Linked DNA regions of Homo sapiens: region 2 is reported to be linked to region 1. The links are microRNA targets in miRTarBase. Many come from high-throughput screens and were not tested one by one. Region 1 holds a microRNA gene; the other region holds the end of a gene's coding sequence.

Region 1 (3,107 bases):
CCCTGTGGGCCCTGGGCCCTGGATGCTCTGCGCCCGAGGACCTGGGTTCTGCCATCACCTGGGCAGTGTGGGGGGCATATAGGGGGAACATGGGGTGCCTGATGTAGTGCCTGTGTTTGACCTTGTTTAGGTGAAGAGCACCCTTTCCAGCTTATGTTTTGTATCATGACCGGGAAAGGTACGAAACAAGTGTGTCGGGGCCCAGATGATTTGATGGCTCTACGGGCCGAGTATGGGACACAGGATAGCTTGGCCCTGGGTCAGGTATTAGTCAGTCCTTGCTGGCACCTGGGCAGGGACACATCCGTGGATGGGGCCTGGCCAGGTGGCCTCTGAGGTCCTCGTGTCCACTGGAAGGCTGTGTCCTCTGTTGTAGTCACTGACTTGCTGGACCTGGGTGGGAGCTCACCCACCTGTGGATGGGCCAGGGAGCTCCTGGAATCACTAGAAAGATGAACTTTTTTTGCCTTCTAAATGTATGAAAAGATGGGAAATGATAGGAAAATAAGTGGAAGTCAGATCTATTCAGGAAAATGACTTCCCAGGGAAGAGCTGGGGTGCCTCCAAACCCAGAATCCTCGGTTTCTAGAAGCAAGGCTGACCGAGGTGGGCAGCATTCTTTGGGACCTTGAGTGATGAAGTAGTTACTTAAGCAGAGTGTTTCTCATGTGAAGCCAGGCAGTCTAGGACACTAGGAATCATTTCAGCGTGGGGGAGACGCAGACACTGTGCTTGCCCAGGGTGCTGCATTCATCTGAAATGCCGGTGGCTACCAGCTCTTTGTCACGGTTCCTCCGTGGTCTCCTTGAATGCTGTCAGATTCAGGGCCCGTGTGGGCAGCGGCAGCCTCGTTCCCAGTCGTGTTTAGGGAATGGGGTCAGAGAAGTACTTGCTAAAGCTTCCTGTGTGCACGTGTAATTGTGTGTGCATGTGTGTTAAATAAATGTATTTCAACTCGAAATACACGTTTCGTGGCCATCAGTCTAGGGATGGCTAGAATTTAGTCACTAAATGAAACTAAGCCGCACCGTCACCAATAATGTGAACATGATTAAAAACCACACTCAGTTCTTATTCATTTACCTACAAGTCCAGAAACTTTTAGAACTTATTTCACCATTAAAATAAATAGTTTTTTAAAAAATATACAACAATAAGGAAAAATTTGAAAGCCTCTTGCCCCTCCATCCCAGGCCTGACAGAGTGGCTTCCACAAAGAAAGAGGCAGAAGCCAGGGCTGTCTGTGCCTGCAGGGCGCTGTTGGGCTCACAGATGACCCAGACTCCCCCGTAATGGAGCCGCGGACCCACAGCGAGCCACTTGCACCAGGCTTAGCCAAGCTGACAGGCCAGCGGAGTAAGGAATGTTCCCTACCATTGTCCAGAAAATGTAACGAGGGTGAAGGTGTGCCAAGCAGACTCCCCGTGTCAGCCCTGAGGCGACTGCCATCGCTTTCAGAAACCTGACTACCAACCTGGATGAAAACCGACTGCTTGGTCATGGCCATGCAGTTAGAAAACACAGCAGCAATCCTCAGATGAGTGTGGCCGTATTTGTGTTACTCAAGCTGCTTTGTCATCTGCATTTGAAGAAACGTGGTGAGCCTCCTGTGTGTGCCCATGTGGCAGTGGGCACCTCTGCCCCCTGCAAAGGCTGTCTAAGAACACAGAGCCTGCAGTACAGGCCCTGCCTCCTGACATGCCCCAGGCCGGCTGGAAGAAAGCGCGGGACTGTCCTATTGACGTGGGGAGGGGACGGCTGGACTCTGTGATGCTAACTGTGTTCTCTGCTGGGCCATGTGGCTCCCCACAGAGACCCTGGGTGCCCAGTCATTCGCGTTCTCCTATGTGTGTGTATATATATTATATATACATGTATTTACTAACTTTAGAAAGCCCCCAAGGGGGCCTTGTTTCTGCTTGGACAGTCAGCGTCCATAGCGTGTCATTCCTAAGCTCCATTAAGGAGATTCAGAAGCAAGCAGTTACCCCTGGAGTCTGCACGCTGGGCACAAGGGTCACACCTTCGTTGAGAGCTCCTGACCCCAGGAGCCGAGGGCAGGACACGGTAGTGTTTACAGGACCTGGCAAAGGGGCACTGCCTTGTGTGTGAGGTTTTTTCACCAGTCAGTCCCTTTTAAAAACAGCATATCTTTTGAAGAACAAGAAGTTTACGCAGGCATAAGCAACTCACTTTGCACGTGGAGCTTTCAGGACGTTTCATGTCTGTTACGTTATAGCCTCTATCCTCATGGGGGCTCTGAGTTCAGCAGGGCCTGAGCTGTTAATCTGCTTTTTCAAATTATTAATAATGAAAGTAACACCATGCCACCACCTGGTATCATTTCATGCTTTCTATGTGCCTGGTGTTTACACGGCTTATCTCATTTAATCTTCCCAGCATGTAATAAAAATATTGCAACAGGTACTGCTCCTGTGTGGACTCCTTCCCCCGAGCTCACACTGCTTGAGGCCTTCCCAGCTCTGGGCTTTGTGTCCTGTGTGGACTTCTTCCCCGAGCTCACACTGCTTGAGGCATTCTAGCTCTGGGCTTTGTGAATATCCTGCTTTTATCCTCATTTATAGGTAAGAAAGCTGACTCAGAGAGGTTAAGCAGCTGGTCTGAGGTCAACTGCTTACGGGTCGGGGAGCTGGGCCTGCACACAGGGGTCTGATGCAGAGCTGGTCCTATCTGCTTTATAAGCTGTGGCTCACAGGGCACTCCAGGGGCTCGAGAGGACCTGGCGGGCTGAGATGAAGACTGGTGAGGCCTGGGAGGCAGGTGCTTGACTGAGGTGGGAAGTGGGACCTTGGTGCCAAGCATTCCCAGGGCCACGGGGCAGGCCTGTAGGGTCTGGTGGGTATCTGGGGTCCCGGAGAAGCCCTTGGCACGGGGCTTCATGAGAGCATAGGCGAGTGCCGCGCCCTGCAGTTGAGCACGGGGGATGCAGCTGTCGCAGTCGCTTTTGAAGAGTGAGGGGTGAGGCCTGCAGTTGCTGCCCGACGTTGTTTACAAGTGAGCAAGTTTTACAAAAAACATGGACAGCATCAGGGCTGACTTGAATTTTTTACTTGAGGCAGCAGCTCAACCTGTTGGTTTCCTCAATT
Region 2 (3,082 bases), not on the chromosome of region 1:
CAGGAGAAATGCTCTCATATGGAGACAGGCAAGAGGTGGAAATCAGAGGGTGCTCGCTTTGGTGTGTTGAGCTGATCCGGGATTGTCTTCTGGAGCTTATTGAACAAAAGGGTGAAAAACCTAATGGAGAGATCAATTCCATTCTTCTGGATTATTACTTATGGGACTATGCCCATGACCATAGGGAAGATATGAAAGGAATTCCGTTTCATCGCATACGTTGCATATATTATTGACCTCAAGTGTAAACTGATCCAAAGAAAACCCCCTGCGTTTTATATCATATCATCTGTACAGTTTTGCTTTGATATTTAGAGAACATGATCGAGGTTATAGGAAATTGATTGCCCATTCTCACTTGAAAAATACTTCCTAGGCCGGGCACAGTGGTTTATGCCTGTAATCCCAGCACTGTGGGAGGCTGAGGCGGGTGGATCATCTGAGGTCAGGAGTTTGAGACCACCTGGCCAACATGGTGAAACCCCATCTCTACTAAAAATACAAAATTAGCTGGGCGTGGTGGCACGTGCCTGTAATCCCAGTTACTTGGGAGGCTGAGGCAAGAGAATCGCTTGAACTCAGAAGGTGGAGGTTGCAGTGAGGCGAGATTAGGCCATTGCACTCCAGCCTCAGCAACAAGAGTGAAACTTTGTCTCAAAAAACAACAACAACAACAACAACAACAACAAAACTTCCTAGGCCAGATGTGGTGGCTCATATGTATAATCTTAGCACTTTGGGAGGCCAAGGCAGGAGGATTGCTTGAGGCGAGGAGTTCAAGACCAGCCTAGGCAACATAGGGAGACCCCCATCTCTACAAAAATTTAAAAATTAGCCTAGCATGGTGGCACGCTCTGTAATCCCAAATACGCGGTAGGCTGAGGCTGAGGAGGGTGGATTGCTTGAGCCCAGGGGTTTGAGGCTGCAGTGAGCCACAGTCACGCCACTGCATTCTATCCTGGGCAACAGATGGAGACCTTGTCTCAAAAAAAAAAAATTCCTGACATCGCTATGTATTCCCAACTTTATCATTTGTCTGCCTGTTTAGTTTTGACTTATGTTTTTTTTTTTTCCCCCCTGTGGACATGTAGTTGACGGAAATCGTGAAGGAACTTTAATATTTTATTTAAATTTCCCAAAACTAATCATGCCTTATGTGACTAATCTTCAGTGATAATATTTCATCTACTGATATATTTTCTTGAGGTGTGTAATTTTCAGTATACCTTAATCATTTGGTATAAAAAAGAGAGAGGTTTTTGATATATGAATGCTGTTCTTGTAAAAATCAATCTTGACACTTTATTTTAAACTTTTTATTGGTAATGACAGTGGGTTTTGTACATCATGATTTTCAATTTAGGATATCTGTCTAATTTGTTTTTTCAGAGTAACTATATTGGAATTCAATAAAAATATTCAAAATTTTTCTTAAACCTGGAATGGATTATTTCATTAAAATAGAATTTACTATATATAATTTTAAAAGGTTTACTGTAAGTTAGATTATTTACCTTCTGCTGCAGAACTCTCATTACCTGTCAAGTACTCATTTCCCACCACCCCCGCCACATTCCTTCTAACAGAATCTTGATTTTGTTAGGTATCTACCTTGTCTGCTTGCTGTGACTTCAGAAAAGTCAGAAAAAGATGCCCTTTTCCCAAGCACTTTACTGCCATCTGCTGGAAATTTGTCATAATAACCTTACAAATGACTGTGAGTGAGGCCTCCTGGAGTTGTGCACTACACAACTTGCACAACCATAGGAGTGGTCCTGTGTCTATCCCTGTCCTGTATGACTCAGGGGATGGTGATCCCATCCCCAGTTCTGGAGGTAGATCTTGTATGAATGGTTTACTATTCCTGGTCACTTTACTCTCCTTGCCTGTGATTGCTTTGATAATGGGTATATAATCTAGTTCTGGACAGTGACACTGGATGACAAGTCTGCTGGGAAGCTTCTAGAAAAGGATTCTTCACTTTTAAGAAAGAGATATAGGACAAAGTTCCCTTTTCTTCCTCTGAGCAATGCTTTTAGCATGATACCTGCTATCATGCAGGTAGCCATTTTGTGGAGCTAGAGCCCAGCTATACTTTCCATGCCTGAGCCCATCCTATCCATGGACTTCATACTTGAGATAATAAACACATTACCTTATTATTTCCAGCATCTTGAATTAGTTTTCTGTAACTTGTACCAGAAAGCATCATAACAGTTTCCAGTGTAATCTCTGGGCCTCTGCTCCTGCCACCCTTCTGGCACTTCCTGTCTTCCCTTCCCCCTTTCCCTCTTCTCCTCCCCTTTGCTTCTCTGCCCTCCTCCTTCTTCTTCCCTTCTTTCCCCTCCCCCCTCTTTTTCTTCTCCTTCTCCACTCTCTTTTTTTTTATTTTTTATTTTTTATTTTTTTAGAGATGGTCTCACTGTCACCCAGGCTGGAGCACAGTCGTGAGATCATAGCTCATTGTAACCTTGAACTCCTGGGCTCAAGCAATCCTCCCAAAGTGCTGGGACCACAGGCGCATGCCACTATATCTGGCTAATTTAAATTTTTTGTAGAGATGGGGTCTCACTATGTTGCTCAGGTTGGTCTCGAACTCCTAGGCTCAAGCAGTCCTCCTGCCACTGGCCTTCCAAAGCACCGCGTTTACAGCTGTGAGCCATGGTTTCCCAGACCCAGCTGCCTTTTCTCTTCTGCCACTGAGCATAACCTGGAATCAATCCTGGATGCCTGCATTCTAATCTAGCCAGCAGGATTGAAGCAATAAAGAAGAGTAGAAAGAAAGGGTTGAAGCCAGGTGCAGTGGCTCGCTCCTATGGTCCCAGCCACTGTGTGGTGGGGAGGAACTGAGGTAGGAGGATCCCTTGAACGTAGGAGTTCATGTCCAGCCTGGGCAATGTAGCGAGATCCAGTCTCTTAAAAAAAAATAAGGAAGAAACAAAAAGAGTTGACAAGAAAGGCTCTAGTAGCCACCACATTCCATTTTGGTTTCATCTTACTAGAATTTAGTCACGTGACCACAACTAACTGCCAAGAAGGCTAGGAAAGTGGCATGTATTATGGGCATTGGATACCAGCTAAA

The links. Region 1 holds the annotated microRNA hsa-miR-4269 (GCAGGCACAGACAGCCCUGGC, at 1,231-1,251, opposite strand). A microRNA usually pairs through its seed, bases 2 to 8, with sites in the 3' UTR of a target mRNA and lowers its output. Matches are read on the target gene's strand: a 7mer-m8 pairs with bases 2 to 8, a 7mer-A1 pairs with bases 2 to 7 and ends in A, and an 8mer does both.
Region 2: miRTarBase lists QNG1 as a target of hsa-miR-4269. Seed matches in the 3' UTR shown: 7mer-m8 at 527-533.

Annotation. Positions count from the first base shown.
Region 1 is chr2:239,303,616-239,306,722 of GRCh38, reverse strand. MIR4269 (microRNA 4269) reads right to left here and starts at 1,261; the gene lies at 1,178-1,261. The region is part of intron 2 of HDAC4 (histone deacetylase 4); the gene reads left to right.
Region 2 is chr9:83,936,665-83,939,746 of GRCh38, reverse strand. QNG1 (Q-nucleotide N-glycosylase 1) reads left to right here. Exons shown (of 4, transcript NM_032307.5): 4 at 4-1,436. The coding sequence ends at 236. Among named protein-coding and RNA genes, the nearest start is that of KIF27, 17 kb to the right of the region's middle.